Homo sapiens: one gene and its partners. The protein of the gene in region 2 interacts with the protein of the main gene of each other region in a pairwise test. Each region holds a gene or a part of one and is shown on either strand. Other genes may lie near its edges.

Region 1 (3,500 bases), on a different chromosome or scaffold from region 2:
GCGTAAATATGGCATTAAATACAGAGTTCCTACTCAGTAGAGATGGAACTTCACTATTTGGTTGTATAAGGCCTTTAGATTTTTAAATCAAATGCCAAATAATTCTTGTTATTAATCTCTAATGGCAAGATAATTGTACCATCATAAGTATGTTATTCTCAGGCTCAAGGCAAAATTATTCCTGCAATGGATCTCTCCTTTGGTGACCAAGGTATTTGTCATTCCAAGTACTACATAAAAACAGTCCCAACAGAAACGATCTGCCTATCACTTAAAATTTGTGGGCTGTTTCCCATTAAGTTATATCAACATGCTGGTTTGCTACAGAAGCATACTTTGAAGTATGCATTGGTTCACTTAAAGGTTGACCCATTTAAAGCCAAAGGAAGCCGGGCACAGTGGCTCACACCTGTAATCTCAGCACTGTGGGAGGCCGAGGCAGAAGGATGGTGTGAGCCCAGAAGTTTGAGAACAGCCTGGGTGACATGATGAGACCTTGTCTCTACAAAAAAATTAAAAAATTAGCCATATGTGGTGGTGTGCATCTGTTGTCCTAGCTACTCAAGAGGCTGAGGCAGGAGGACCACTTAAGCCCAGGAGGTCAAGGTTGCGGTGAGCCATGTTCATGCCACTGCACTCCAGCATGGGCAACAGAGTAGTGAGACCCTGCCTCAGAATAAAAGCCAAAGGAGTCTTGATCCTATTGCCACAAAGTGATTAAACCACTTCGTTCAAGTGGATAACACTTTAACATTAATAGCATCCTTTTAGTAAATTACTACTCTTATGCACTAGTTGTTCACCTGAAAGATTAAGTGTACCTGCAGAGATAGGGGGCTTTGTCTAGTCTAAATTTTAAATATTTGGTATACTGGGTTTTTAATAGAAGATAGTGTCCCAGCCTTCAAAATAAAAATAAACATTTTATCTTTAAAGCTGCTCAAGAAGCCAGAAAAAGGAGATGAAAAAGAATTGGACAAAAGAGAAAAAGCCAAGAAATTGGACAAAGAGAATCTCAGTGATGAAAGAGCCAGTGGGCAAAGTTGTACATTGCCCAAGCGTTCTGATAGCGAACTTAAAGATGAAAAACCAAAGAGGTCAGTAGTCAAGGACTCTTTGTTATGTTTGATTTATACATGCTAGTTTTGCTGCTATGTCCTGGACATGTACCTGAATTAAGATAAGCTGTTTTATGCAGGGCAGGGGGATGAGGAGGAACAGTTTCAGAATATTCTTGTATCTTAATCTGGGTGAATGGTTTTGGGGTTTTGTTCCTTCTTAAAACACTAGTATTTTTCACTCTGCTCTAAAAGTGCAACCTCATTGCAGGGGCCAAATCAGAATCACAGTGTTCCTGCATTTGTGATTACAAGATCTTTCAGGGTTCTGTCTCAGATTTGTTTTTCATGCAGACCTGAAGATGAGAGCGGCAGAGACTATAGGGAGAGGGAACGGGAATATGAACGAGATCAGGAGCGCATACTTCGAGAAAGAGAGAGGCTGAAGCGGCAAGAAGAAGAGCGCCGTAGGCAGAAGGAGCGCTATGAGAAAGAGAAGACTTTTAAGAGAAAAGAAGAAGAAATGAAAAAAGAGAAAGACACACTTCGGGATAAAGGAAAGAAGGCTGAAAGTACAGAATCAATAGGCAGCTCAGAAAAAACTGAAAAGAAAGAAGAAGTGGTCAAGAGAGATCGAATAAGAAACAAGGTGCTGCTTGTCATTAAACTTGTTTATGAGGGTTTTTTTCCCTTTTCCTGCAAGTGTAAAGAAAGTGTAAAGGGCACTGTTATTATAGAATTTTTAAAGGGGAACTTTAATCATCTGCAACTTTTTTTTTTTTTTTTTTTTGAGACAGAGTCTGACTATGTTGCCCAGGCTGGAGTGCAGTGGCACAATCTCGGCTCACTGCAAGCTCCGCCTCCTGGGTTCACGCCATTCTTCTGCTTCAGCCTCCCAAGTAGCTGGGACTACAGGCGCCCACCACCACGCCTGACTTATTTTTTTGTATTTTTAGTAGAGACAGGGTTTCACCGTGTTAGCCAGGATGGTCTTGATCTCCTGACCTCGTGATCCACCTGCCTCAGCCTCCCAAAGTGCTGGGATTACAGGCGTGAGCCACCACGCCTGACCAACTTTTATTTCAGTCTTGGCTGGGCTTTTATTAACTTACTATAGAAATTGTAAACATACACAAAAGTAGAATAGAGAATAGTATGATGGGCCAGGTGCAGTGGCTCACACCTGTAATCCTAGCACTTTGGGAGGCTGAGGTGGGTGGATTGCTAGAGCCTAGGAGTTCTAGACCAGCCTGGCCAACATGGTGAAACCCCGTCTCTACTAAAAATACAAAAAATCGGCTGGATGTGGTGGCGCACACCTGTAATCTCAGCTACTCGGGAGGCTGAGGCAGAAGAATCACTTGAACCTGGGAGGTGGAGGTTGAGGTGAGCCGAGATCACGCCATTGTATTCTAGCCTGGGCAACAGAGCGAGACTCAGTCTCAAAAAAAAAACTGGCCGGGCGCGGTGGCTCACGCCTGTAATCCCAGCACTTTGGGAGGCCAAGACGGGTGGATCACGAGGTCAGGAGATCAAGACCATCCTGGCTAACATGGTGAAACCCCATCTCTACTAAAAATACAAAAAATTAGCCAGGCGTGGTGGCGGGCGCCTGTAGTCCCAGCTACTCGGGAGGCTGAGGCAGGAAAATGGCGTGAACCTGGGAGGCGGAGCTTGCAGTGAGCCGAGATCGCGTCACTGCACTCCAGCACGGGCAACAGAGCGAGACTCTGTCTCAAAAAAAAAAAAAAAATCGAATAGTATGATGAACTCCATGTACTGTACCCATCACCCAGCAGTTCATAGCCAACCTTCTTTCTATTCTACTTCATCCCTACCCCTACTAGATTATTTTCAAACAAACCCTGCACATAATTTCTTCCTTAAATACTTCAGTATATGAGATAAATACTCTATTAATATTACCCTAGTAGCATTTTCACACCAAAAAAAACTAACAATAATTCCTTAACGTCCTGTCTATTCAGTGTTCATATGTTCCCAATTGCTTCATTAATGTCTTTTTAAAATTAATTAATTATTTATTTTTTGCGATGGAGTCTCGCTCTGTCATCTAGGCTGGAGTGCAGTGGCATGATCTCAGCTCACCACAACCTCCACCTCCCGGGTTCAAGTGATTCTCCTGCCTCAGCCTCCCGAATAGCTGAGACTACAGCCTCAAGCCACCATGCCCGGCTAATTTTTGTATTTTTAGTAGAGACAGGGTTTCACCATGTTGGCCAGGCTGGTCTCGAACTCCTGACCTCAGGTGATCCTCCCGCCTCAGCCTCCCAAAGTGCTGGGATTACAGGCATGAGCCACCGTGCCCAGCCTAATGTCTTTTTTTTAATAGGACCTAAACAAATTCCACAAATTATGCTTCCTTGAAATGTCTTCTTCAGTTCTCTTTTGTTTTTAGTTTATTTTTTGAGACAGAGTCTT
Region 2 (3,500 bases):
CGCTTGAACCCCGGAGGTGGAGGTTGCTCTGAGCCGAGGTCACGCCATTGCACTCCAGCCTGGGCAACAAGAGCGAAACTCCATCTCAACAGAAGGAAGAAAAAAAAAAGAAGAAAAGGTAAATGGCTGATTATTGATTTTGCTTTACAGACAGGAATTTGCTGTTGCTGGCTATGAATTCTGCATTTCAACTCTAGAGGAAAAAATTGAAAGAGAAAAGGAATTAGCAGAAGACATTATGTCAGGTAGGAAACCCATTATCTGGGCATTGCCTTTTCTCCACAAAAGGCTTTACTTTACACTTTTGAGAAATGGAAAGAGATCTAAATTGGGAAGAGGGAAAGTTACCTATTTTGCAAAATAAGTGTCTGTCTTTAAGGTATCAGCAGAAGTTTTGGAATAAGATGTTTTATTTAAAATATTTGACTGCTGTTTTGGTGGTGGTTTTTTTTTTAACCCCCTTGGTAACATGGTCATAATTTATTTGTTAACTTTTAGTTACATATAACTTAAGGAAAATTGGGGAGCAGAAGGAGAAGGTGTTTCTCGTATCTCTTAGTTCAGCTACCAATCAAAATGCTTATTACGTTTTAGCCCTAGATATACAGCAAATTAAGAAAGAAGAGAAAAAAAGCTCATGTTTTTACAATCCATCCTCACTCATTCTGGAGGCTAGGAATAGAACTGGATGAGCAGGAAGCTCTCTAGCTCTCCACCATTTTGGGTTTCTTAATTTGGGTTGAAGTATTGAGAATTTTCAGATTTGACATTTATTCAATACCTACTCTATACCAAGAGCTACCGAGATGGTAGGGATACAGCAGTCAACTCTTCTGTACCTAGTGGTCTTCTAACTCTCTCTTGAACATAGAGTAGTCCCCCGTTATCCATGGGGAATATGTTCCAAGACCCCCAGCAGATGCCTGAAACGACTTCTAATACACTGTGTTTTTTTCTTATATATATGTACCTATGATAAAGTTTAATTTATAAGTTAGGCACAGTAAGAGATTAACAACAATAACTTTTAATAGAACAATTATAACTATATACTGTTAACAGTGTCACAGACAGGAGATTCATTCTTATTGTAGATCTTATCAACCTCAGCATACAGTTTTTTGTTTTTTGTTTTTTGTTTTCTTACTAAGTTGAGAACTTTCACCTTTTCATTAAAAGGAAGCACTTTATGACTTCTCTTTGTCATATTCAAATTGCCAGTATCACCACTCTCACACTTTGGGGCCATTATGTAAAATATGGATTGCTTGAGCACAAGTACTGCAACATTGTGGGTTGATCTGATAACTGAGACTGCTGCTAAGTGACTGAGGCCAGCTGCCGTATACAACTTGGGTACACTGGACAAAGATGATTCATGTCCTGGGCAGGATGGAGTGTGACAGTGTAAGATTTCTTCATGCCACCCAGAATGGCATGCAATTTAAAAACTTACGGATTATTTCTTGAATTTTTCATTTAATATTTTTCGGACTCTGGTTGACTGCAGATAACTGAAACCCCAGAAAATGAAACTGTGGAGTAGGAGGGATCACTGTACACCAATTTTTTTGTTTTCATCACTCCACTGAAGCTACCTTTATCAAAGTCACCAAATCCAATGGTTACTTCTCAATCCTTAACTTACTCATCAGCAGCTTTAACTTAGGGGATCACTGTCTCCTACTGAAAATACTTTCACTTGGCTTCTGGGATGCCTCACTGGTCTCTCTAGTGAGGTGAATAGACTTCCCTACCTCTTAATGTTGGCACGCCTTAGGGCTGTTTTCAGCCCTATTCTCTTTTCTCTCTGCCCCAACACCTAGGAGATATCTTTTAGTTCCATAGTTTTAAATATTAGATTTATACCTTCAGCCCCAACTTGCCCCCAAATGGCAGACTTATAATTATGATTGCCCACCCGACATCTTGACTTGAAGTCTAATGGTCATCTCATACTTAACATGTCCAAAATAGGTCTCAGTTTTGCCGCTCACAACTTGTTTCGTCACCAGTCAGCCCCAGATTTGTAAATGGCACACTACTCATTTAGTTGCTTTGGCCAAGAACCTAAGAATTGTCCATGATTTCTTCCTCATTCCTCATATCTAATCCATCAGCAAGTTATACTGGATCAGCCATCAAAATATATCCATACTGACCATGTCTCATCCCATTACCCTACTGCTTTGGTCCAGGCCATCACTGTTTCAAGACCTCAGTACCTTTGTATCACCTTTAGAATAAATTTAGAATCCCTGCATGGACCTGTAAGGCGCTTATGACCTGGGCCCACCCACCTCTTCCATGCCATCTGCTGCTCTCCCCTTGCTCGTTCCAGTCTCACCACACTGGTCTTATTCTGGCACATTCCAAGCTTAGTGCCACCTCAAGGCCTCTTTGCTTGATATTCCCCCTACCTAGACTGTTCTCTCTTACCTTTCTCTGGCCAACTCCCGTACTTCACTCAGGTCTCTGCTCAAATAGCACTTCCTCAGAGTGCTCCCTTCACTAAAACTATCATCTCTTCCCACCTTACTATTGCTCTACTCCTCTTTCCTTTACTTTTCTTCATCACACTTAAAAGTAGAGGTGTGTGTGTTGTGTGCTTGTGTTTCTCCACTAAAAGTATGTTTTTGTTTAAAAATTTTTAGTCTTTGTCTTCCATATCAAAGAAGGATAGAGACTTCATCCATTATACTCAGTGCTAAATCCTCGGTGCCTAGAACAGTGCCTGGCACATAATAGAGGCTCAATAATTACTGAATGAAAGAACAAAAGACCCAAGAAAGACCAGCAAATAAATCCAGTTTCAGTGCAGTGTGGAAGTGCTTTGAGGAAATCCACAAGAGGTGTAAAAACAAGTCTAGCTGTCAAGTAAGTCACTTCTGAACTATTTACACCTTTGCTGTCTTTCATTTATAGTGTTGACTATGGTTTCTTAGGAGTGTAAAGCTATATTTTCTGATTCAAAAAATAATACCAGTAAACACTGAAGAAAGTTTAGAAAAGCACTAAGTAAAAATCATCTGTAATCATACTATTAAGAAAGAGCTACTGTTTTATTTATTACTACGGCTTTTCGGGTTACATTTTAAGAAATAAATTTGGGATGATACTGTATATCCTACTTTGTAACCTGAGTTTTAACAATTTAGTAACATATTATGAAAACACTTTTTTTTTCCAGGCAAAGGAATTCTTGTTAGATAGAGCAAGCTAATTTCTATTATAAATATTATTTTTACATTTTACTAGTTGCACAGTATAGAAAATGTGTTACATGATTCTTCATCTTATTTTTTCTAGAAAAGGAATTCCTACCTATTCAGTTTTGCACAAAGCAAATCCATTATCAAATTTACGTGCTTTTTATTGACACAACTATCTCTATTCTAGGATAACATTACTTAATTACATAAAATTACATTACTTAATTACATAAAACCTTGCTCTAGGATAATTATTTTGTTACCTATGTTGTAGACATATATGTACTT
Region 3 (3,500 bases), 4.5 Mb from region 2:
ACAAAACACCCCTCCCTTTTCTTGCAGAGAAGCCACGGATGAACAACATCCTGACATCAGCCACCGAGCCCTATGACCTCTCCTTCTCCCGCTCGTTCCAGAACTTGGCCCACCTGCCCCCATCCTACGAGTCTGCAGTAAAGACCAACCCCAGCAAGTATTCATCTCTGAAGAGGCTAAGTAAGTTGAATTTCCCCCAAGTTGGGGTCTGTCTCTGGGGCTCCAAGATATCTTCCTATGTCACACTCTCTTGCTCCATACCCCATAGGACAGCTGTCAAATCCCAAGAATAAAGAAGGAGTTGCAGGATGAGAGAAGAGAATAGACAAGCTCTTTGCTTTTGTTCCTTATGGACTGAGCCCATTCTTTCCATACATAGAAAGAAGACCATGGAATCCTCAGATTCACATCCCTATAGGAGACGGCCTTCCAATTCATGCACCAGTTTAACTGCGGGAGAAAGCCTTCTCCCAGTCCCGCACGCAACTGCCTTCTTCAAACCATGGGCCTTCCTTGCTGTATACCCTATACTGGATAGAGGCTAGCAATGGCCAGAACTTTCTCTGAGACCTCTCCCAGAGGCCCACAAACCAGCTCCTTCTCCAACCCAGCCAACAGTGTCTTGAGGACCTGAGATCCTTCACCTCCCATGCATACACCCCATTTCACCAGTTCAATCCAGTTTATCCAGTGATGCCAGCTCTGCCTCTTGAGTCTGGGGAGACTCTGGGCATCAATGGGTTAAAGATACAAAAATGTCAAAAAATTTCCCTAAAGGACAGCTCTTCCTCCCTGGCTTTCTGGCCTTGGACCTTCTCCTCCCATTTTCCCAGGAGTCTCTTTTGATGACCACCCAACTGCAGTTGGAGCCTCAAGGGCTGAGCATTTGCTTGAAAGCTTCAGGGTAACCTACCCTGACAGAAGTGCAGCCCAAGTCCACATCAGCCACCTCCATGGTGAAACGTGGAGTCTCTAGCTAGAGACGGGACTATCATAACCTGAGGAATCATCCCGAGGTGATGAAATTTGGCTCAGGAGGAAGGATACCCATCAACGACCCCGCTGCACCAACTGAAGAGCAGACAGAATTCCCACACTTTTGCAGAGATCTAGAAGGCCATGTGTAGGAGGCCTCATTTCTGAAATTTGGGGCAATGCAGGTTTGTGTGTAACCTGCAAGTTCAAGTAGGTTTGTAGCATGCAAGTCCAAGTAGGCTTGTAGCATGCAAGTTCCAGGCAAATTCAAGGGTACAGAGAGCAGTGTGAGCTTAGGAGGGCCTGCTGGATAGAGAGAAAGGTGGAGCATCTAAATGAGGCGCACATGTAAGATTACTCCAACCAGCTTGCGTTATGGGCACAGGTGGAGTGTGTGTAGGCTGATTATGTGGCTGTGTGGGGACTGGAGGCCCATGTATTGGCTTTCTATGCGTTGCCTGTTACTACAGAGAAGGTGTTACGATGTTCCTAAGTTACCAGTTAAACATTTTCACAAGTGTTTCCTAGTCTGAGCATCTTACTTTATTCTAGCCGGAGGCTGGCTCTGGACCTCATCAGGAAGCTTCAAGAGCTGCTATTTGGATGTTTTAGTAAGACAGATAGTCATTCTGTTTCAGGACCATGGTGTGGTAGATACGGCCCAGGACCAGGCGGAGTTCAGGGACTTGGGCTTGCTATCAACTCTGCCCTGAACACACTGGGGATTCTGAGGAAGTCCCTTAACATATCCCTACTCAAGGTGGTCTATGTACCAGAGGCTTTTAGCATTACCTGGGAGCTTGTTAGAGATGCAAACTCTTGGGCCCACCCCAGACCCACTGAATTAGAATCTGCATTTAACAAGCCCCCAGAGAATGGTTTGCACATTCAATGGGAAAATACACCCTTCACCCGTCTGTCCTAATCCATAACTAAAGGAGTTTGACTGTATTATCCCTTAAGGTTGACAGGTCTGTGATGGAGCAGGAGCGGGGCAGGGTTCTATCTGAGTCCTGGCTGCAGGGTCACCCCAGTTGCCTTCTCTCACTCTGTCTCTCCCCTGCAGCCGACAAGGAGGCTGACGAGTATTACATGAGACGGCGGCACCTGCCCGACCTGGCTGCCCGCGGCACCCTCCCCCTCAATGTCATCCAGATGTCCCAACAGAAGCCGTTGCCAAGGGAACGACCCCGCCGGCCCATCCGGGCCATGTCCCAGGACAGGGTCCTGTCCCCGGATCGGGGCCTGCCAGATGAGTTCAGCATGCCCTACGACCGCATCCTGTCCGACGAGCAGCTGCTCTCCACGGAGCGCCTGCACTCCCAGGACCCGCTGCTGTCCCCGGAGCGGACGGCCTTTCCCGAGCAGTCGCTGTCCAGGGCCATCTCGCACACGGACGTCTTTGTGTCCACACCCGTGCTGGACCGCTACCGCATGAGCAAGATGCACTCTCATCCCAGTGCCTCCAATAACTCATACGCCACCCTGGGCCAGAGCCAGACGGCAGCCAAGCGTCATGCCTTTGCCTCACGCAGACACAACACGGTGGAGCAGCTGCACTACATCCCGGGCCACCACACCTGCTACACAGCCAGCAAGACCGAAGTGACCGTGTGACCGGCGGGGCAGGGCCGGGGCTGCTGGGCGTGGCAGAGCAGAGCGGGGGCCGGGAGGGGCCAGGAGCAGAGCTTCTAGCCTTGCCACTCTCCCTTCCCTTGTCCCCTCTGTAGGAAGTGGGGGTGGGCCACCTTTGCCCAAAAAGCCATACCCCCGGGGACACAGCCCCGATGGCCTGGTCCAATACACTTAGACCCAGGACCAAGAGCAATCGCTCTTGCTCCTCCAGAAGAATCAGTGGGGAGTGAGGAGGGGGCTAGGCCCCATTCTCACCCCCGACCACCTTCACCAACTCCCTTTCCGTCCCGCGCCTCCTTCTCCCCATCCGGGGGACTCAGCTGCAGGTTCTGTCAGCAGAGAGACCCTTGCTTGACTGTGGTCTGAAGCTGCCTGGGTTTGAAGGGGCCAGCGGGTCCAATCAGTGGGCTGACCGGATAGGCTACTCGGTCTCATTCATTCATCTAGAACCGCATCACAGAAATCTCCTAGTGCCTAAAAACTGCCTGCTCGCTCTCTCAGAGCCAGGGAGCTGCTGTGTCCATAAGCACAATAATGATTCTTTTCTTGCCTGCTGGAACTCTCTGGTCCCCACTGAGTGACCCTTCCTTTGCTGACCCCTGAGGGCCCAACCCTGGCCCTGTGCCCCTCCCCTCAACTCCAGGACCAGGAGGGGTTCCCTTCCTTCAGCTGCCTCCCCATTGGTGGGAACTCCACCCCCTTCCAGCTGACTGCCCGCCCATAAGGACCCTGGGCCTGTCCTTTCAGCGGGCTGTGCTCCTTCCCTGGCCCTGAGGATTTCACCCTTGAGTTTTCTGGGGTTTTGGCTGTAGCCTTCGCAGAGGGGAGTAGCAATGGGGTGCTGGCCCTCCCAGACACCCGATCATCTCCGCACTCCCTCCAGGCCTCTA
Region 4 (4,227 bases), on a different chromosome or scaffold from region 2:
CTTGGAGAACAGTCCAGGAAGAAAATCCCAGCTTCCTGCCTAGAGATCTGTCCACCCTCTTGCTAGCCCACTAGCTTGCAGTTGGCTCAGCCGTGGACCTGGGATGTTATATATTCATTAATTAATCAATTCAGCTCCGATGCCAGCCTCTGCTTGCCCACTCACTAATCCAGCTGAGGGACAGTTGGGACCACCCTAATACTGGGCGTGGGCCAGGCATTTCCAACAGCCAAGAAAAGCACCATGTGCTATGAAGGGAAAACACACTAGCTGAGCTCCCCTCTAAACACCACACATAAGTACAAATCTGTTGATAAGGGAAGAGGCCATGGAGATGGACTAGGGAGAGTCTCAGATACCTAACTGGTGGATACACACACTGGCATCCTCCCAGACCAGTGCCCTGGTAATTATCTAGGAGGTGACCTGTAGCTCAACTGAGTCATGCTTCCTCCTCTCTCAGTCCCCCGAGGCAGGCTCTGGACACCTGCTCATCTCATGGCTGCTCAGCCAGAAAAATGTCCTCCTACATCGTGTAGATGATCCCCTTGCTGTTGTCTCAGAGCCATTTTCCAGCTCTGGGTCCACAACAATGGGGGTATGGTAGAAACCTAGGGGGTCAATGAATCAGTCAAAAAACACTGGCTGAGCACCCCAGCGATAGAGTGATTACTGCCTATAGGCAGGGAAAAAGAGTGTGGGGTGGTGGGGTCTGGAGGTAACATTATCCGTGAATTTCATTTAGGGATTGTTACAAAGAGTGGACGCCAACCAAAACGCATATTTTCTCCAAAGACATGTGCAGTAATATTTTAGCAGCACTTTTGTGGTGGCCAAAAACTCAATGCAACGCCCATCAGCAAATACTGTTCAGGAGCAGAAATGGACGCTAGGGCCACTCACAGCAACGGGGATGCTCTCTCAATCATGACACTGGGCAAAGGCAGCCAGGCACAAAGGAGAACATCTGGATGGTTCCACTCACACAAAGTTCAAATCACAGCAAAGCTAATCTTTGCAGAGGGAAGTCAATGAGAGCCAGGGAGGACGGTGACCCTGGGGGCCACTGGGGGAGGCTGGCAATGCTTTGTTTTCTAATCTCCAGGTGACGGTTACAGGCGAGTCCTCTCTTTGACATACTCAATTAAGCTCTGTACACTTGAGCGTCTGTCCACTCGTAGGTGTGCATACTTCCACTGCGGATTTAAACTTTCAAAGAAGTCTAGGGTGTTAGGTCTGGAGGTTTCCCCAAGGTTTTCCACAGATGAGCAAATGGGCCTAGAGGTGGACAAAGGGCCCAGACGTGAGCAAAGGATGGCAGCAAGCCCGGACCCAAGCGACGCGGCGAAAGCACAGCGACCCCACCCTCGCCAGGTGCAGAGCCATTTCCGCCTCCGAGTCCTGCGTTGCCTGGCAACCGGTCTCCCAGGAGACGCGAGACGCTGAGCCCAGGGCCAGAGCTTGCGGGGCGCACAGAGCCCCCAGGCCTCATGGCGCAGAAACCTCTCAGCACCGCGGCGGCTGAACGCATGAACCTTGTGGGTCAGGATGAGATCTGGTAACGCCTGGGATCGGGCAACGCGGTGGGCTCCTGTTCTCACCTGAAGTGTCCACATCTGGGGTCTCAGTTTCCCCACCAAGTCCGGGAAGTGATCGACCACTAAACTCGAGGGGCAGAGGGGCGTGCGCTGAGGATGGTCAGGGGCCTTGAGGAAAGGGGTCAATGTTAGGGACATGAGAGCGACAGGAGGGCCTTTCTCCGTCTCCTTCTCCCTCTCCTGTTGGGCCCACCACGAAGACGTGGGAGATTGGCTTTCAACAATCAGCAGAGATTGGCTTGTTGAAATCCAACTAACATGTTCATGTTTTTTTTTTTTCTTCAAATCTCAGCATCCAACCAGAACGTGTTCATGTTTTTAAGACTGATGATTTTTGTTTGTTTGTTTGTTTGTTTTTTGAGATGGAGTCCTGCTCTATCCTCCAGGCTGGAGTGCAGTGGCGCGATCTCGGCTCACTGCAACCTCTGCCTCCTGGGTTCAAGCAATTCTCTGCCTCAGCTTCCCGAGTAGCTGGGATTACAGGCGCCCACCACCACACCCGGCTAATGTTTTTGTATTTTTAGTAGAGACGGGCTTTCACCATCTTGGCCAGGCAGGTCTTGAATTCCTGACGTCGTGATCCACCCGCCTCGGCCTCCCAAAGTGTTAGGATTGCATGCGTGAGTCACCGCGCCTGGCCAAATTTTTTTTTAAAAAAAGAAAGCAAAAATCCTAATATTTGTTAAATTTGAATGAAGTACATGAAAATCCCTTGATTCTCCTGGGTTTTTAAGTAATATATTTTAACTTTAAAGATACATCCATTTTCTAAAAGATGTATGTCTAGCAGACATTTGTCGTGGATATTTTAATTGGCATGCTATCTGCTACGTATTATTGCATCTCTTTGAAAGTTTAACTCATATGGGAATTTACAGATTTAGATATAAGTAAGTTGTAGTAACAATAAAACATACTTGTTTACCTTCTAAACTTCAGTTATCCTATTTACCCTCTCTATAATTTTTACCATTTCCTTGTAAAACCTCTATTAGTCACTTCATATGTGTCTTTAAATTGTTTTCACTTGATGATTTTATGGAAAACTTCATATCACTCTCATAAATAGAAAACCTTTATCATTTGGCATAAAATACACAACTATTTTTTACTAAATCTTTATCCAAGTGTCCCAATAGGAGATGCTGCCACAGCAGGATCTGTTCCCTCTGTCTGAAATGCCCCTTCCTCTCTTCTTCACCATACAAACTTCTGCTCATCCTTCAAGACCCAAATCTAAGTGACCCCTCCTCTTTGAATAGGGCCCTTGGCTACCTAACACTTAAATTGTAACTGGTCCAAATTGGGTTCAGCCGTTAAGTGTAAACTGCGTGACAAATTACGATGATTTATTTAAAAAAAAAAAAGATTATTTAAGTGACTGTCAGCCGGATGCAGTGGCTCACACCTGTAATCCCAGCACTTTGGGAGGCCGAGGCCAGGAGTTGAAGACCAGCCTGGCCAACATGGTGAAACCCCATCTCTACTAAAAATACAAAATTATCCAGGCATGGTGGCACACACCTGTAATCCCAGCTACTCAGGAGGCTGAGGCAGGAGAATTGCTTGAACCCAGGAGGCGGAGGTTGCAGTGAACCTAGATTGTGCCATCGCACTCCATCCTAGGCAAAAAAAAGGCGAAACTCCATCAAAAAAAAAAAAAAAAAAAAAAAGACTGTCACCTGTTTATTCTTATGTTCTTTTTAATGTAGTTACTAGAACATTTCAAATTGTGTATGCAGCTCATGTTTGTGGCTTATGTTACATCTTGATTGAAATAGACTCTGCCTTAGATGCTCACTGCCCAGGGCAAAGAGTTGACCAGGGTCTCCGAAACTGTGGGGTAGGGATATGCTGATATTGATTCCAAGATAGAAGAAACTAGAAAACTCAAAACGATTGAATGTTTAATTTGATGTTTGCAAAATGTGGCACGTGGGCTCGTCTACTGCAATGCCACTCAGCTCATGGGTAGTTAGATATAAACAATATTAGCATGGAGCAAAAGCAAGGTCGGATTAGGGTGGGGCAAGTGAGGCACTTGCGCTGCAATATTTAGGAAATGCTCCACGTCAAGGTCATGCAGACGCTGTCTCTGCACTTGCAGGAAGCAGGGAGTGAGTGCCTCCTCCACTTTTGCACCTCCTCAAATTTTGAGTCATAAGGGCCTCCAAAATAAGAGATCTGGTACCTAGAAGGCTCCTCAGGCAGAATCGGCCCCCAGACTGGCCCTTACCCGGCATTCCCTCTCAGCCGTAACAGCCAACCAGCATCTCTCTTTCGTTAGCCACGTGTCTCCCTTGCTGGTGGGAGGTGCTCAGCATCAGAGGTTCTCACGCTGTCTGGCTCCTCACTCCGTCCCTGGTGCAGAACCACTGCCCAGTCAATGTTCGTGGAGAATGGAAATGTCCCCCACAGACCCCTTGAACCTTTTTCCGTGTTGCCCAGCACTCAGGAACTTTCTTTTTCAGGAAATACCGTCTGAAGGCTGAATCGGAAGCACGGCAGAACTGGCCCCAGAACTGGGGGTTTTTAACAACCCCTTTTGAGGAGGTAAATATAAATTGTATGAGCCCCAAGGTTACAGAATCAATCATTTCAAAGAATGAATGATTACAAAGTCTATCAC
Region 5 (3,500 bases), on a different chromosome or scaffold from region 2:
TCATGATCTGCGCTTCACTGCCAGCTTGCCCTACACGATGGTCCCAACATTCCTAGGGGCCTTGGGGGACAGAGGGATTTTTGGAGGTCCCTCCTATTGTCTGCCCACCAGTGCTTATGTCTGGCATAGCAAAAATAGAACAAGACACCCCTTTGGAGCCCAGGCTTCATTTAAAGGCAAAGACATTTGAAGAAGGCTCAGACATGGGGTAGAGTGATGGTGGTGGGGAGGAGTGGGACAAAGGGGGACCCTGGGGACAGAGGCTTCAAACCCAAACCAATCCTTTGCCTGATTTCCCTAGAGTTACCTCACACATGGCCCTGCATTTGCCCAGAAAATTAAGAACCAATCAGCAGGCTGTCCCAAGGGGCAAGAGGCACTGCCTGCTTTAATGAGTGTGCCCCCTCCCACCCCCAGGCTTTCTCTGGCTGCCTTTGCTGCCTAACTAGTCTGGGTAGGAGAGGTGCCACTCACTACAGAGACTTGTTCCCAGTGCCTTTTGCATGTGTGGGACCCGGTCCAGCAATGGCAGGACACCTGTTGAACATCACCCAACCCCATGGCAGCTGGGCCAGGTTGGGAATTTGCTGGCAGCTGGCACAGAGGTGCCCAGGTGCAGCAGTGAGAGAACAGGAGCAGGCTGCTGTGGTAAGGAGGGGTGGGGATTGCCCGGGCAGAGCCATACCTGGAGGGGCACCAGTCAGCAGCGTGAGCTCAGTCTTCACACAGACCCCTGCCCTGTTCCCTTTGAGCGTCAGTCCCCTCATCTCTACACTTGAGGGGGTGGGATTGGACTTGGTAATTTTAGGGCCTGCCCTCTCTGACATCTTGGGGGGCTGTGATTTCTCACCAACTGTCACTGTGCAAAAGCACTGTTTGACCTGGGTTTGACCCCAGCTCTGTAACTTACTGGCTGCATGACCTTTGGTAAGCTGCTCCTTTCTCCAGACTCATTGATTCCAATCTGTTAGGAGAACTCAAAGGATAATCTTTGCAAAGTGTCCAGGCCCAGGGTCCAAGGTAAATGGGTTCCACTCTTAACAGAGCTGTACCTCCCCTAGTGCCAGTGTCCCCTCTGAGGCCAGCCTCACCACTGCCCTTTTCACATCTGGCTCCAAGTAACAGAAACCCCAACTTGGATCGGCTTAAATACTAAGGATATTTATTGTCACACACCACATCAACTCACGACATAGAATGCTGCCAGAATTGGTGGATGCTCAGGCTCAGAAGCATCCTCGAGGTCTCAGGATCTTTCCAACACCCCGAATTACCATCTTCAGCTGGCTAACGGCTCATGGGGGCACTTCATCCAAATAGAATGAAAGACCAGCAGATAAGAGGCAGCCTCTCTTTTTTTTTTTGCGACCAAGTCTCTGTCCCCCAGGCTGGAGTGCAGTGGCGCAATCCTGGCTCACACTGCAACCTCTGCCTCCTGGGTTCAAGCAATTCTCCTGCCTCAGCCTCCCGAGTATCTGGGATTACAGGCGAGCGCCACCATGCCCAGCTAATTTTGTATATTTAGTAGAGATAGGGTTCAACCATGTTAACCAGGCTGATCTTGAACTCCCGACCTCTGGCGATACGCCCACCTTGGCCTCCCAAAGTGCTGGAATTACAGGCCTGAGGCACCGCACCCAGCAGCACCCTCTCTTCTTGTAGGTGGTTTTAAAGAGCAACTGGAAACCAACCTTACCCAGCCATCCCTCAGCAGACCTCCTTCCTGTCTGATTAGCCAGGATTGGGTTACATGCACTTCCCTGAGCCAATCACTAAGGAGGGGTGTGGCTCTGCCTTGCTGGTATAAATGTGGAAGGTTATGGAGGCGGAGCCACCCGAACCCAAGGGCCATCTGCTGGTGATGAGGCAAGGAGGGGCATGGTGGTGGGCTAGGTGGCCCTCAGTGGAGCCTGGTGATGATGGCAAAGGCTGAACTGGTGAGTTAAGGGGTAGATGGCCTGTCGGACTTCACCTGGTCCAGCCTGCTGGAACCAACATAGGGTGGGCCGTGTAAGTTACTCCTACCCCGGCACCTTGGAAGGGGCCCATTGCCCAACAGGCTGCTCCTGTTGTTCTGGTCTCCTACAGAGCTGGAGTGGAGCTCCGGGAAGCCATGTGTGCCCACCACCATCCCCTCCTCTCTCAGCCCCACAGCTGGCCTGTCCCCAAGCTCTCCTGGGGCCCCTTCCATCCCCACAGACCCTGCCCTAGTGCTAGCCTCCCCTCAGGCCCCTGCCATCCATTCTCTGAGGAGCAGCCAGGGCATCCCCTGCCTAGCCCTTCCCCTGGGCCCCCTGTTACTATCACGACAAGGCAAATCCCACTCTCAGCCAGGTCCACAGGCCCTGTGCCCTCCAGCCTCCTGGCTTATGGCTCCAGCTCATACAGGCATTCTGCAGCCCCACTGGACAGCTTGCTGTTCTCCACACCCACACTGCCCCTTCCCACCTCCAGCCTCCACCTCTGCTGCACTCGCAGTCTGGAATGGCCTTCCTCTTCCTTACCTACTGCCCTTGTCCTTCAGGTCCTCCCTGAGGAATGGGGTCAGAAGTCATGGCTTTCTCCTCGCACACCCCAGCTCCCACAACCACAGCTTGCTTAGGACTCTACATGTTTGTGTGTGTGTGTCTGTCTGTCTGTCTGTCTGTCTGTCCCCTATCCTCCTGGATGATGGTGGGCTACAGGGTCGGGGGCAGAGTCTGGCTCTACAGCACCCCACAGGCATCTGGAATGGAGAAGCCCCCCAGAGTCAACATTTGCTGAGTTCAGTGAAGTTGAACTTACATCTTAATAGCAAAACATCCATTGTCTCCTTTAACCTTACAACAGGCTTTCAAAGTGAGGAGTTTGAGGCATATCCCCATGGGATGATGGGAAAAGTAGGTCCCAAAGAGGAGAAGGGACTTGAAGGCCACACAGCAAGGTTGAGGCAGACCCAGACCCAGAGCCAAGGGGTCCTAGATCCCTAGAGACCCCAGCCCAGCATCTGCTCCCAGCAGCTACTCCTCCAGATGGCGGCCACTATGCCTGGGCAGAGCAGGCAGAGGTGGATGTGGGTGGGCCCAGGGGAAATAAGGCGGTGGGCGTGGAGGGGCCATGGAATGAAGGCTCTGTCCCCAGGGGAAGCAGGTCTGCCTCCATGGCTGGGGGTTAATGGCTTTTCTGAAGATCACAGCTGAGGGTTAATGACATTCCATAATTCCACTACCGCTGTGGCCCTTCCATTAGCATCTGCAGGCGATGCCTGCCTCTCCCCGCCCCCATCCTGCACACACATCAGCCACAGTACCCTCACCAGGGCTCTGGCGTCAGACTGCAGGTCTTCTAACTTTGAGTTCCCACCACTCCTGCCTGCACATGCACAAGACAGGCTGACCCTCCCTCCCCAGTCCTAGGTCTGAAGTGATCTTTCCTAAGTGACTTGCCCTGGGAAACTACTCAGGGAAAGGGCTGTTCCTTATTGGGCCGGCAGCCACTCACCACCTCTGGCTTCATAGGCT
Region 6 (2,988 bases), on a different chromosome or scaffold from region 2:
ACCAGCTTCACCCAGGGTTGGTACAGAGGATGCTGGCCCAGGGAGTACATCCACAGCATCTTCCAAGTTTGCTCCAAACTGGTGAGTTTCCAGCCTGACTTGGGTGTCGTCAGTTTGTGGGCCTAGGGGACAATTGTTGGCACTGATGAAGTGCTATAATGTGGGAGATTTCCATCCCTAGAAAGATGTTACTAGATTCTCCCATCTAACTGGCAGGCAGTGGGCCCAATCCAGTCAATCCCCTAGTCCTTTAAAAGATTAGGAACCTAGCTTGAAGATTCTTTTTTTTTTTTTTTTTTTTTTTCCTTTTTGTAGAGACAGAAGTCTCACTCTGTCTGCCTGGCTGGAGTGCAGTGGCGCAATCTCAGCTCACTGCAACCTCTGCCTCCTGAGTTCAAGCAATTCTCCTGCCTCAGCCTCCCGAGTAGCTGGGACTACAGGTGCACGCCGCCACACCCGGATAATTTATTTTGTATTTTAGTAGAGACAGGATTTCACCGTGTTGCCCAGGCTGGTCTCAAACTCCTAAGTTTAGGCAGTCCACCCACATCGGCCTCCCAAAGTGTCAGGATTACAGGCGTGAGCCAGAGAATTCTTCATTCTTTTTTGAGTCTCGCTCTGTCGCCCAGGCTAGAGTGCAGTGGCGCGATCTCTGCTCACTGCAACCTCTGCCTCTCCCGAGTTCTAGGTCCCTGCCTCAGCCTTCCGAGTAGCTGGGATTACAGGCGCCTGCCACTACACCTGGCTAATTTTTGTATTTTTAGTAGAGACAGGGTTTCACCATGTTGGCCATACTGGTCTCGAACTCCTGACCTCGTGGTCCGCCTGCTTTGGCCTCCCAAAGTGCTGGGGATTACAGGCGTGAGCCACTGCGCAGAGCCCTTCATTCTTAACAAACTTCCAGATCAGCAAAACTGTACAGTGAAGCTGGAAAACTTCCAGGTAACATTAAGACTACTCAGCTGCTTGCTTTTTCTGCTCAACAGGTGTGCTTCCTCCTGGGATGGACTTGAGTCATTTACAGGGAATATCTGGCCCCATCCTGGGTCAGCCCTTTTACCCTTTACCTGCTGCTAGTCACCCTCTCTTAAACCCTCGTCCTGGAACACCTCTGCATCTGGCAATGGTGCAACAGCAGCTACAGCGCTCAGGTAGGTTCAGGAATGTGACAGGTGAGTTTGGGACGGACTTAGGGAGTCTTGAAGCTTTGAGGACTAGTTTCCAGTGGAGATGAATTAACACTTTCATTCTTTAACTTGTTCTAAGTTTGGGACAAAGTGTAACCAGATAATAAGATGAAGTAAATTGACCTCTATGCAATTTGGGATTACTGTTCCTGCAAAGTCAGTGGGAAAAGCCAAGTGTTTTCTGGCTTTTTCCTTTGCCTGTTAGGAGAGAGGGCTGAGAATCCAACAGAGGTTCAGCATCCGGCCTGCCCAGGGTATATACCCCCTCACCAGTTCATGTTGCTGCTTCTGTGATGTGGTTACTTAGCCATGAGAAGTAGCGGTCATGTCATCCAGGGTGGGTTTTCAATACTGGTAGCTTCTGAATAGCTCAGCTTTCCATGGTACTGTTTTCTGGCATTGTTGGTATTTTGCAAAGGAGTTTCTAAAGAAGCCCTAGAAAAAATCCTCTAGTAAAGACTTTTCTTTGGATAGGGTTTGAATGAAGCAGGGTCTAATAAACTTTCCTTCTCATGCTGTGAATGATAACCCTTCTTATCTCCACAGTTCTGCATCCTCCAGGCTCTGGTTCCCATGCAGCAGCTGTCAGCGTTCAGACAACCCCTCAGAACGTGCCCAGCCGGTCAGGCCTGCCCCACATGCACTCCCAGCTGGAGCATCGCCCCAGCCAGAGGAGCAGCTCCCCTGTGGGCCTTGCCAAATGGTTTGGCTCAGATGTGCTACAGCAACCCCTGCCCTCCATGCCCGCCAAAGTTATCAGTGTAGATGAATTGGAATACCGACAGTGAGCAGGGCAGGCAGACTCAACTAAGCCCGGACCTGTGGTGGCACACTGGGCAGGACCCTGCTTCATCTCGGGTTGGTTTATGGGCTTTTACTTTGGAGCACTCTGTGTGAAGCTGTTTGGTGGAACCCATGCATCTGGTGTGGTCCGCATTATGATGGAAGGATCTTAACCAGTCGAGTGGAGTGTACATTGTCTGAATACAGGATGCACAATGTTGTCAATCCTGGAAATGGTCTTTCTTTTTTGTAAGATATGTGAATGAAGTGTTGGTGTCCTCACCAAGAGGTGGCACCTAAGGGTTCTGAGGAAATAAATGTATAGACCCTTATGTACAGACCTGTGTATAAACAACTTTTGTATATACATATAGGATAGCTTTTTTGAACTATACAGCTGTACATAAAAGTAGCTGATATTAGTTAGGCCTGTGTCAACAGTTTGGATTTTTTTCACTTGTACATTTGGGATTTTCTTTTGGTTGATTAAAATTGCATATGCTAAGTGTGTGAATGAAGTAACTGACATTGTTGTGTTTATTTCCTCTCTGAAACCCTTCCTAATTTTGTTTGGAGACAGGGTCTCACTCTGTGTCACCCAGGCTGGAGTACAGTGGTGCAATCGTGGCTCACTGCAGCTTCAACCTCCTGGGCTCAAGCGATCCTCTCACCTCAGCCTCCCAAGTAGATGGAACTACAGGCACATGCCACTAACTTTTTTCTTATTTTTTGTAGAGGCAGGGTCTTACCATGTAGCCCAAGCTAGTCTTCCTAATTTCTAACCAGCCAAGCTATGCTCAGTATGTTCCTTTAAGGAAGTGATCTGAAGTTTAAGTAAGTTAAGTTTTTCTTGAAAACCCATGGAAATTGGGCACTGTGGCTCACGCCTGTAATCTCAGCACTCTGGGAGGCAGAGGCAGGCGAATCACAAGGTCAAGAGATCAAGACCATCCTAGCCAAGATGGTGAAATCCCATCTCTACTAAAAATACAAAACTAGCTGGGCATGGTGGCCCACA

What was found.
Region 1: the proteins of TTC19 (region 2) and UPF3B interact in a two-hybrid assay, tested with the Homo sapiens proteins (one large-scale study listed by BioGRID and IntAct).
Region 3: the proteins of TTC19 (region 2) and SHISA6 interact in binary tests that used the Homo sapiens proteins (3 or more experiments, as listed by UniProt).
Region 4: the proteins of TTC19 (region 2) and CIMIP1 interact in binary tests that used the Homo sapiens proteins (3 or more experiments, as listed by UniProt).
Region 5: the proteins of TTC19 (region 2) and CCDC33 interact in a two-hybrid assay, tested with the Homo sapiens proteins (2 studies listed by BioGRID and IntAct).
Region 6: the proteins of TTC19 (region 2) and EIF4ENIF1 interact in binary tests that used the Homo sapiens proteins (3 or more experiments, as listed by UniProt).

What each region holds. Positions count from the first base shown.
Region 1 is NC_000023.11:119,835,964-119,839,463, reverse strand, and holds part of UPF3B (regulator of nonsense transcripts 3B), read left to right. Parts: intron 1-936; coding exon 937-1,097; intron 1,098-1,412; coding exon 1,413-1,707; intron 1,708-3,500. UniProt on the Homo sapiens protein: Involved in nonsense-mediated decay (NMD) of mRNAs containing premature stop codons by associating with the nuclear exon junction complex (EJC) and serving as link between the EJC core and NMD machinery.
Region 2 is NC_000017.11:16,006,324-16,009,823, forward strand, and holds part of TTC19 (tetratricopeptide repeat protein 19, mitochondrial isoform 1 precursor), read left to right. Parts: intron 1-150; coding exon 151-245; intron 246-2,654; coding exon of another isoform or gene 2,655-2,683; exon of another isoform or gene 2,684-2,741; intron 2,742-3,500. UniProt on the Homo sapiens protein: Required for the preservation of the structural and functional integrity of mitochondrial respiratory complex III by allowing the physiological turnover of the Rieske protein UQCRFS1.
Region 3 is NC_000017.11:11,555,713-11,559,212, forward strand, and holds part of SHISA6 (protein shisa-6 isoform 1 precursor), read left to right. Parts: intron 1-27; coding exon 28-180; intron 181-2,041; coding exon 2,042-2,592; 3' UTR 2,593-3,500. UniProt on the Homo sapiens protein: Involved in maintenance of high-frequency synaptic transmission at hippocampal CA3-CA1 synapses.
Region 4 is NC_000020.11:58,149,475-58,153,701, forward strand, and holds the start of CIMIP1 (ciliary microtubule inner protein 1), read left to right. Parts: upstream 1-1,427; 5' UTR 1,428-1,490; coding exon 1,491-1,558; intron 1,559-4,069; coding exon 4,070-4,151; intron 4,152-4,227.
Region 5 is NC_000015.10:74,274,326-74,277,825, forward strand, and holds part of CCDC33 (coiled-coil domain-containing protein 33), read left to right. Parts: intron 1-3,500.
Region 6 is NC_000022.11:31,438,867-31,441,854, reverse strand, and holds the end of EIF4ENIF1 (eukaryotic translation initiation factor 4E transporter), read left to right. Parts: coding exon 1-81; intron 82-986; coding exon 987-1,151; intron 1,152-1,733; coding exon 1,734-1,975; 3' UTR 1,976-2,488; downstream 2,489-2,988. UniProt on the Homo sapiens protein: EIF4E-binding protein that regulates translation and stability of mRNAs in processing bodies (P-bodies). Plays a key role in P-bodies to coordinate the storage of translationally inactive mRNAs in the cytoplasm and prevent their degradation.